Linked DNA regions of Homo sapiens: region 1 is linked to region 2. Evidence: fine-mapped expression QTL. A gene starts in region 2. The other region holds a variant in brackets. All regions are shown on one strand. Distances are between the middles of the regions.

Evidence for each region.
Region 1: its variant is fine-mapped to the expression of MAP3K2-DT in whole blood (INTERVAL, PIP above 0.99).

Annotation. Positions count from the first base shown.
Region 1 is chr2:127,241,636-127,247,012 of GRCh38, forward strand. No RefSeq gene overlaps it. Among named protein-coding and RNA genes, the nearest start is that of CYP27C1, 24 kb to the left of the region's middle. The variant G/A (reference allele first, on the strand shown) is at 3,361.
Region 2 is chr2:127,385,206-127,390,582 of GRCh38, forward strand. It overlaps MAP3K2-DT (MAP3K2 divergent transcript), which reads left to right and starts at 2,233. Exons shown (of 4, transcript NR_187129.1): 1 at 2,233-2,347; 2 at 3,676-3,793; 3 at 3,906-3,980. MAP3K2 (mitogen-activated protein kinase kinase kinase 2) reads right to left here and starts at 2,770. Exons shown (of 17, transcript NM_001371910.2): 1 at 2,247-2,770. LOC124906074 (a long non-coding RNA gene) reads left to right here. Exons shown (of 4, transcript XR_007087227.1): 3 at 319-350; 4 at 875-956. RefSeq lists a silencer at 2,190-3,059.

The DNA.
Region 1 (5,377 bases), 140 kb before region 2:
CCCTTCCGCTTCTGAGCCTAAATGGAAAGCAAGTTAGTTGCTTCCTAGATACAATGGGGATACAGGAAATGGGTAAATACAACTCTTCTGAATGGGAGAAATTGGCCAATACATAGGAGCCACTGGCCCCATGCAAGTCTGAAATCCAACAGGGCTGTCATTAAACCTTAAAGTTGCAAAATGATCTTCTTTGACTCCAAGTTTCACATCCAGGTCATGCTGATGCAAGTGGGGGGCTCCCATCTTCTTGGGCAACTCTGTCCCCATGATTTTGCAGGGTACAGCCTCCCTCCCAGCTGCCTTCAAGGGCTGGTGTTGAGTGTCTGCAGCTTTTCGAAACACAGAGTGCAAGCTGTCAGTGGATCTACCATTCTGGGGTCTGGACTATGGTGGCCCTCTTCTCACAGTTCCACTAGGCAGTGCCCCAATGGGGACTCTGTGGGGCTCTGACCCCACGTTTCCCTTCCACACTGCCCTAGCAGGGGTTCTCCATGAGGGCTCCACCCCTGCAGCAAACTTCTGACTGGACAGTTATTTCTTACAGTTATGGAAGCTGAGAAGGCCAAGATCAAGGGAATGCATCTGGTGAGAGTCTTCTCACTAGTGGGGACTCTGCAGAGTCCCAAGACAGTGCAGGGTATCATATAGCAAGGGGGCTAAGCATGCTAACATACTAAATCAGGTCTCTCCCATCTGATAAAGCCACCAGCTCCACTCCAATGATAACCCATTAATCCATTAACCCATGATTAATCCATGTGTGAGGGCAGAGCCCTCATGATCCAATGACCTCTTAAAGGCCCCACCTTTCAATAGTGCTACACTAGGGATGAAGTCTCCAACACATAAAATTTGGGGGACACATTCAAACTATGAGCAGTATGCTATCTGATGACAACAGAATGAAACTAGGAATCAATAACAGAAAAATAGCTAGAAAACTCCTAAATATTTGAAGATTACCACAACATACTTCTAAATAACTCATGGATCAAAGAATTCTCAAGATAAATTTTAAAATATTTCAAATTAAACAAAAATGAAAATAAAGGTTATCAAAATTTGTGGGATGCAGCAAAAGCAGTGCTTAAGAGGAAATTTATAGCATTGAGTGTACATATCAGAACAGAATGAAGACCTAAAATCAATAATCTAAGTTTCCACCTTAGGAAACTAAAAAAGAAGAGCAAATTAAATCTAAAGTAGTAAGGAAAATAGTTATAAAAGCTAGAGATAGAAAATAATAAAAAATGAAAGCAGAAATTAATGAGATAAAGAATTTTAAAACAATAGATCCAATTACAATAGATGCAATTAAAATCTGTAATTTTGGGGGAAAATAAAATAGACAAATTACGACCTATATTTACTCAAGAAAAAGAGAAAAAGTACAAATGCACAAAATAAGAAATATCAAATGGGGAAATAACCATTGAAACAGAAGGTATTTTTAAAAACATAACGGGGCTACTTTTCAGACCTCTGTGAAAATACTGACAATCTATATGAAGTGGATAACTTTAAGAGAGATAGAATGTATTGAAATTGACCCCATTTAGAGACAAACAGTTTAAACAGACTAATTTACTTCGAAGAAACAGAGATAATTATCAAGGAACTTTCACATTAAAAAACAAAAACAAAAACAAACAAACAAAAAAACCTCATGGTCTCACAAGGTTTTCTACCAAATCTTCAAAGACCAGGCAGTCACAGTACTTCACAAGTTTTTCCAGATCATTGGGAATGAAGGAACATTCCTGAACTGTTTTTAGAAAATAAGTATAGCATTAACAACTAAACTTGATAAAAACAGCAAAAAAAGAAAATTACAAATATCACTTACGAATATTCATGAAAAAGTTCTAAATAAAACCCTATTTAACAGAATACAACACCACACTATGAAAATGATACAACATAACCAAGTGGGATTTGTTCCTGGAATGCACACTGGCTAAATATTAATAAGTGAACTAACACACTGTATTTACAGATCTAAGGAGAAAAATCATATGTTTATTTCCATAGATGCTTTTAAAAAGCCTTTTCAAATTCCTTACCTACTCCTGTTTAAAGAAACTCAAGAGTGTGTAATTTTTGTTTTTTTAGTAGAGAGAGGATTTCACCGTGCTGCCCAGGCTGATCTGGACCTCCTGTACTCAAGTGATCTGCCTGCCTCAGCCTCCCAAAATGCTGGTGTTACAGGTGTGAGCCACACCCCCTCTCTACTAAAAAAAAAAAAAAAAAAAATTAGCCAGGACTACAGAAGGTGTGAACCTATAGTCCCAGCTACTCAGGAGGTGGAGGCTGCAGTGAGCCATGACTGTGCCACTCACTCTAGCATGGGTGACAGAGTGAGAACTTGTCTCAAGAAAATAAAAAAGAAAATTTTAAAACTCAAGAAATGGCCAGAAGTGGTGGCTCGTGCCTGTAATCCCAGCACTTTGGGAGGCCAAGGCGGTGGATGGCTTGAGGTCAGGAGTTCAAAACCAGCCTGGCCAACATGGCGAAACCCCATCTCTACTAAAAATATAAAAATCAGTCAGGTGTGGTGGAGTGCACCTGTGGTCCCAGCTACTCTGGAGGCTGAGGCAGGAGAATAGCTTGAACCTGGGAGGCAGAGGTTGCAGTGAGCCAAGATGGTACCACTGCACTCCAGCCTGGGTGACAGAGTGATACTGTCTCAAGAAAAAAAAAACCCTCAAGAAAATAAGTTATATTATTCAGAGTATTTTTAGAGATAGGGTCTCACTCTGTTGCCCAGGCTGGAGTGCAGTGGTGTCAGCATAGCTCATTGAAATCTCCAAATCCTGGGTTTTAAGCAATCCTCCCACTTAGACCTCTCGAGTAGATGGGACTACAGGCACAGGCCACCACAGTCAGCTAATTTTTTAATGTTTTTGTAGAGACAGGGTCTCGCTATGTTGCCCAGGCTACTCTTAAACTTCTGGCGTCAAGTGATCTTCCCACCATGACCTCCCAAAGTGCTGGTATTACAGGCATGAGCCACCACCCTTGACCTATCCTTTATTAACATGTAAATACACATATGTGCACTTTCATACACACACACTCCCACCCCAACACATACACTTTTAGTGAAAAAGCCACCAACTCTTTAATGGGGAAGCCCCAGAAACTTTCCACTAAGATCGAGAACAAGATGAATTTGCCCACCATCTCCACTACTAATCAACATTATACTAGAGATATAAGCCCAATGCAATTAGACAAGAAGAATCAATAAGATGCATGAGATTTGAAAAAGTAAAACTATATCTAGCAGATGATACGAGTGTACATACAAAACCCTAGAAAATCAATAAAACTAACAATTCGATAAGGTAGCAAGCTGTA[G/A]AATTATCTTATAGAACTTGATAGCCTTCATATACACAATGATAACCAGTTAGAGTATATAATGGCATGGAAAATGCCATTTATATGGCAAAAAAGAAGATAAAGTATTTAGGAATAAGTACTAATAGGAAATGTACAAAATCCACGAGGAAAATTTTAAAAACATAAAAGTGTACTTGAACAAATTGAAAGACATTTATTGTTCTTTGAATGACTACACATAATAAAAATGTCAGGTCTCCCTAAGTTAACTTATAAATTTAATGTAATCCCAATAAAAAATGCCAGCAAGCTTTTTGAAAAAATGGAACTAGATAAGTTGATGTTAAACTTCATATGGAAAAATAAACATGTAATTTAGGAATAGCCAGGAAATCACTAAAAAGGAAAAGCTATGAAGGTGACTAGCCCAATCAGACATTGAAACATACTATAAAACCTCTATAATTACAACAATGTAGTACTAGCACTTGAATAGGTAAGCAAGTCTATTATAGTTTGTCAAGTCTGTCACAGAAAAAACAGAAATAATTTTAAATACATATGGAACTTTAGTGTATGATAAGAGTAGCAACTGAAATCACTAGGGCAAAAATGCACTTTTAAATAAATGATGCTGGGACAATTGGTTTGCCATTTGGGGGAAAAGATGAAACTGAGCTACACCTCATCACACCTACTGAAAAATAAACTCCAAATGATCAGGAATCTAAATGGAAAATACATCCCTACAAGTATTAGGAGAAAACGAGGTGAATTTCTCTTTAACTTGCATGTAGGGAAAGACATTCTAATTATGACTCAAAATCCAGATTCACTAAATGCACTAAAAACATTGATAAAACTGATTAAATTAAAACAAAAAATGAGGGTTTTTGGCATGGCAAATATCACCATAAGCAAAGTAAAAAGACAGCCAACACACTGGGAGAAAATATTTACAACATATATTACCCCAAAAGCCAGTGGAGAGGCTGGGTGCTGTGGCTCACACCTGTAGTACTCAGCACTCTGGGAGGCTGAGGCAGGTGGATCTCTTGAGCCCAGGAGTTTGAGATCAGCCTGGGAAACAAGATGAGAACTTGTCTCTACAAAACAATAAAAATAATTAGCCAGGCATGGTGGCGCACATCTGCGGTTCAAGCTACATGGAAGGCTGAGGTGGGAGGATCGTCTGAGCCCAGGAGGTGGAGGCCGCAGTGAGTTGTGATAGTGACACTGCACTCCAGCCTTGGTGACAGAGTGAGACCCCGTCTCAAAATAAATAAATAAATGAATAAAGGTTTATTTTTAAAAATGTTTATTTACTTATATTTTGTTTTTCATTTTTAGAGATGAGGGTCTCGCTATGTTGCCCAGGCTGGAGTGCAATGGCTATGCATAGGTGCCATCTCACCATCTTTGAGCATTGCAGCCTCAAATTCCTGGCCCAAGCAATCCTCCCATCTCCCAAGTAGCTGAGACTATAGGCATCTGCCACTGCACTCAGCTTAGATTTTTTTTAACCCGATAGAAAAAAATGGCAAAAGATAAGAATGGGGAATTTATACACAGAAACACACACACACACATACATACACACATACACACACACACATACACACACATATATGAAAGATTTTTCAACCTAATTCATAAGAGAAATGTCAATTAAAACTACACTAAAATACCATTTCTCACCTATAATATTTTCTTTTATTTTGTTTTTTAAGACAGAGGCTCACTTTGTCACCCAGGCCAGAGTGCAGCAGTGCGGTCATGGTTCGTGCCACAACGCCCTGCTAACTTTTTGTGTTTTTGTAGAGATGAGGTTTAACTATGTTGCCCAGGCTGGTCTGGAATTCCTGGGCTCAAGTGACCCACTCGCCTTAGCTGTACAGTGCTAGGACTGTAGGTGTGAGCCACTGCACCAAGCCTATATCTTCAACATTTAAAAAATATAACAATACGCTCTGATGGTAACGCAGTGGATAGACAAGCCTCTCATGCATGGCTAGGGGACATGTGAATAAGTACA
Region 2 (5,377 bases):
CAAACTTCACTAATGTCTTACTTTAAGAAATTGCCTCAGCCATCCCAAACTTCAACAACCACCCCTTATCAACCATCCTTACTAGTCAGCAGCCATCAACATGGAGGCAAGACCCTCCACCAGCAAAAAGATTACAATTCCCTAAAGGCTCAAATTTCTTTAGAAATTTTTAGCAATAAATAATTTTTTAATTAAGGTATATACTTTTTTTAGACATAATGCCATTGCACACAATAGACTACAGTATATTGTAAACATAACTATATGCACCGTGAAACTAAAAAGTTTATGTGACTCACTTCTTTTCCTTTATTGCAGTGGTCTGGAACCAAAGCCACAATCTCTCTAAGGTATGCCTGTACATGTACCTATAGATAAAGCAAATATGGCAAGATAACAACAAATGTTTAATCTAGAGGGTCAAGATACAAGTGGTTTACTATTACCAAATTTTCTGTATGCTTGAAATTGTTTGATAATAAAAAGTGGGAGGTGGGGGGAAATAGCTCCAATTCTATAGGGAAAGAGAAAATCAACCTGAAACCAACGCTGTAGGAAATGCAGAGTATCAAACATGACTTTATTTTAATACAGCACCTGTTAGTTTAACCCTTTGGTACCAATAAAGTAAACTAGAAACAAAAGCTCCCCCTAAAACATTGCTTATAAGACTCAGTCTCTAATGCAATCCAATTATTTAAGATAAGCCTTTAACAGCTAGTTTCTCAAAAGAGGCACATGGATAACCATTCTATAATGATATCATATACAACATAATTCAATAAGATTCAACATGTTTATATTTTAACCAAACAACAAATCAATCTGTAAACCATCCACATGTTAACTTTGTAATTTCACCTTTTCTCCACAGAGACTGCAAGACCACAAATTTTCTTCAACTTGATAATATACTAGGAAAATTACAGAGTAATATAACTGGGCATCAATAGATTTGTTAAACATTTGCAATTATGCATAGAGCTTCAATTACTCAAAGGAAATGTATCGACTTTTTTTCAGTACAGAGCTCTGGCTCCTTATTTTTTCCTCTCACCATAGTTTTAAAAAATACAAAACTCATGCTAAAATGAGAATTTTCAGTTAACTTATAAACACTGACTAGTAGCACTCCATACAAATGAAAAAGAATCACACCATCAAACTTCCTACGATATTCTACGCATTAAAATTTGACATCGAACTAAAAAAGATTGCATAAGACAACGAACAAATCACTAAATTGCCACATAATCCAGCAACAAATTTTGCAACAAGGAAATCTCAAGCAAATAACCCAACTGTGAGTTCCCTTTGGGCATCAAGGTCAAACTACAAAAGTAAATTTGTGACTTTTCAAGATCTATGCAGTTTTACCAAATGTATTTATTTTTTGTGAGAGAATAATTTTTTTCTGTCCAGTACTAGTACATAAAAAGTAAAGGTATCTGAAGCCATCTTTTAAATTTTTTTTAAAGCCAAGAAAATGATTTGGCAAAAGATATCGAAGAGCTTACGTTAGGGAAAACTAAACTGTATCTGTCTATGTGTTTAGAATTTATCCCATTAAAGAAACTGCCCAGTTAGTCTCATTTTCTAAACGTATTTATTTTTTGCAAGACGAGAAATACAGTCTTACAAAAAGACATCTGCATATTCGAACCAAGCCTTCCTGGATTACTACCTTCATGACCTTGGACAAATGCCTTAATCTCTCTGAGCCTCAAGTTTTCACCTGCAAAATGGGGCAATTTACCCACCTCATTGAGCTGGGAAGATGAAGAGAGATAATGCATGACAACTGCCGGGCGCAGACTAAGAGCACCCTAAGTGCTACCTAAATATTCCGTAAAGAGAAAAGGGGGAAACAACCTTACATCAAAAGATTACCACACTGTGACAGTGCAAAGACAAGCACTTTTTCGCTTACTGCATGTACCATTTCTGCTTCATCCCAAGACCAGATGCAACCTTTCTTCTAAAATCTCTGCAGGGTACGTGTCTGACAGCTAACACAGCCCAGCAGCCTACTTCGCGCTGACCTGGGCTTTAGGACTGGATGCAGGGGGCCCAAGGTCCGCCCTCCCGCAGCTAGGCAATCACCCAGCGAAATCTCCGCCCCTGGAGCGGCGCTTAGGCCGCCGCCAGCCCCCCTCCCGGCGCCCAGCCCGCGGCCCCCGACACACACGCGCGCACACACACACACACACACACACAAGCGCGCGCGCACGCACACACGCACGTACCGGCTGCTCCGCAGGGACGTAGAGAGCCGCAGGCCCAAGGAGGGGCCGCCCCCGCCGAGCCCGCCCCTCCGCCCCAGCGCGGCCTGTCACCGCGGCCCCAGGTCGGGGGCTGCCGCAGGGCCCCCGGGGACCGGAGGGGCGCGCGAGGAGTCGGGCGCGGGCCTTGGGGCCAGGCCCGTCCCTCTTTCACATGAAGCCCGGGCCGGGCGGGGTGGCGGGCGCGTGAATCCTCGCAGCCGGCCGGGTCCTCCTGGCGCTCCTCGGCACTTCTAGCCGCTGCAACCCCGAGGCCCGCGGGAACTGGGCAGGAAAGGAGGAAGCCGCGGGCCCGCGTCGCTAGAGACCGGAGAAGAGGCGGGAGTGGCGACTCTGCGGACAGGGGCGCCGAGCGTCCTGGTCGTTGTTTTCGTCGCCGCCGCGGGCCGTGCAACCCCCGAACGCTGCGCCCAGCGGCCGCGGCACCCTCGTCAGGCGCCGCCGCTGAGGGCAGGCAGCCCGGCAGCCACTACACACGGACCCGTGACGTCGGGCGTAGCGCGGCGCACGTCACGGCCGCTCGCTCGTGCGCGCGCACCCCTCCGCCCGGCGGTAGCGGAACCCGCCGCGGGCGCGCGCCCGGCCCAGGGGAGTGGGTCGGCGCCTGCGCAGAGGCCCGCCACGCCCACACACAGGCCACCGCCCCCACCGGCCGGACGGCGCGGGGATTCCCAGTCCTGGCTCCGCCCCGGCCTCGGCCCCGCCCCCGCCCCTGCCCCGGGGCAGCCTGTGCTGTTCCGTGTGCGCGGCGCATACGCACCTGGGTTGTCTCGAGCCTGCGGTAGTGGCCAGATCCCAGACATCCGAGTAGATCCCGTGAAAAGGTCTCCCACGTGGGCTGTGGACAGGGCCCAAGGGTAGCAGAGCTAGCAGAGGCAGTGACGGACTGTGTGGCAGGTCATTTGCAAGGAGAAAAGCCGTCTGCCTCTTAATTTGTGGCTCAAGTTTCAGAATTTTTTTCCTGAGGGACTTTAGAAATTACTTCAGGCTTGCCACCTAACCTTAAACCACCCCCTTGGAGACTGGCTAAGTGTTATTTGTGTTTTCTGTTTAGTTCTTATCACCATCGATACTTGGTTATGACTGGTTGTGTACATTGGTTAGCCCAGCAAGTATTACTTCTCCAGCTTAACAGATGTGGAAACTTAAGCCCAGAGACATGAGTTGACACCCCACCCCCAAAGCTAGAGTCTAAAACCCTTTCTTTCGCTCCTCATCTCCCACAGGATAAAATGCAAATTAATCAGACTAGTGGTGAGGCCCTCCGTGGTGTGACTAACCTGCATCCCGACGTTTTCACCCTACTTTGATCCAGAAAGCACCTTTCCGCCCCATCTCTTCTCCTTTCCTTAAATACCCCTTACAACTTCCTGTACCATTCTTCCCTGTTCAGCTTCTTCTTGGTTTCTTCGTACATTCTGGATCCACCCCTTTCATGCATATTCCAGACCACATTTCCACTGGAGCAGTTGAAATGAGAGAGATGGGAATGGGACTCACCCGAACCAGAGGTAAGGAGCTACCCAACTTGGGCTCTGAGGGTCAAGGGAGCTGGCACTTGTGGGGCAGAGACTGAGGGAGAAACTGTTGTGTAATGTCAAAATATCTCTGGGTTTCTTCCAGGAATTTTTATTACAGACCCATTAACAGAGGTGTCAAAGTCACAGGAACAAGGATGTGCACCTCAGAAACACAGAGGTCAGTGGAAAATCAGTTTGCTTCTATTTGTTTAAAAAATGGGGGACTTATGCATAAATCTAAGACCTTCTTGAATCTAACATTCTAAGACCTGTATGCCACAGAAAGGAGGGTCTCAGAACGCCGGAGGATAGTATTTAAATCTTAAATATCTATATTGTTCTCCACAGTTACTGGGTCACCACATAGCAGGCATTCAATAAAAACGTGTTTGTTTACTAAGTAATCTAGAGATAAATTTTTTCCCCTCATAGTGCTGCTCATTTCTCCACTCCCTTCCCTCACTTACCACCCCGGGGACTTCATTCACCTCTGGGTTCCTCAGAAACATCCCGTGGGTATAGTTATAGTAGCTATTCTTTCTTTTTCGCCATTCTCCTTTTATATTGGTGACTTTTCCTCTTGCTTAGATATTAAATCTCTGACATCTTTGGTTATTTTAGTATATATGATTACAAATTAGTGATATTGGGATTTTTTTATTGATGAAACCATCATTCAATGAATATTTTTTTGCCTTCCTACTCTGTGCCTGGGATTGCAGTGATAAAATTATATAGTCCCCACTGCCCAGGAACTCAGAATCCTGTGAGGAAGGCAGACAGGTAAATGGATAATGATAACACACTGTGACCTGCATCATGGGAGGGATGTGTATCAGGCACCACAGCAGCAAGAGGAAGATGTCACAGGTGTGTCTGGGGAAGTGAGAGATGACTTCAGAGAGGAAATGTGGCATGTTCCTTTTCTGTTGCTGCATAACAAACTGCCACAAACTTAGTGACTTAAAACAGTGTCTGTTTTTTAGCTCCCAGTTATACAGATCAGAAGTTTGCACAGGGGCAAGGCTGAGTTCTCTACTCAGGGTATATTGCAAGGCTGAAATCAAGGTATCAGCTGGGCTGACTTTTTATCTAGAGGCCCTTGCAAAGATCTTCCAAGCTCATTCTTCTTTGGGGCACAATTCAGTTTCCTGTGGTTGTAGGATTGACATCCCTATTTCCTGGGCCTGCCTTCAGTTCCTAGAGGTCACCTGCATTCCTTGCCACATGACCCCTTCCATCTTGAAAGCCAGCGACAGAGACCTTCTTGCGTGCCAAACATCCTCCTACATCAGATCTCTCTCTAACTTCCTCTTTTGCTACCAGCCAGAGAAAACTCTCTGCTTTTATTTTTATTTATTTTTTTATTTTTGAGACAGAGTCTCACTCTGTCGCCCAGGATGGAGTGCAATGGCGCAATCTCGGCTCACTACAACCTCCGCCTCCCAGGTTCAAGTGATTCTCCTGCCTCAGCCTCCTGAGTAGCTGGGATTACAGGCACCCACCCCCACGCCCAGCTAAGTTTTGTATTTTTAGTAGAGACAGGTTTTCACCATGTTGGTCAGGCTGGTCTCG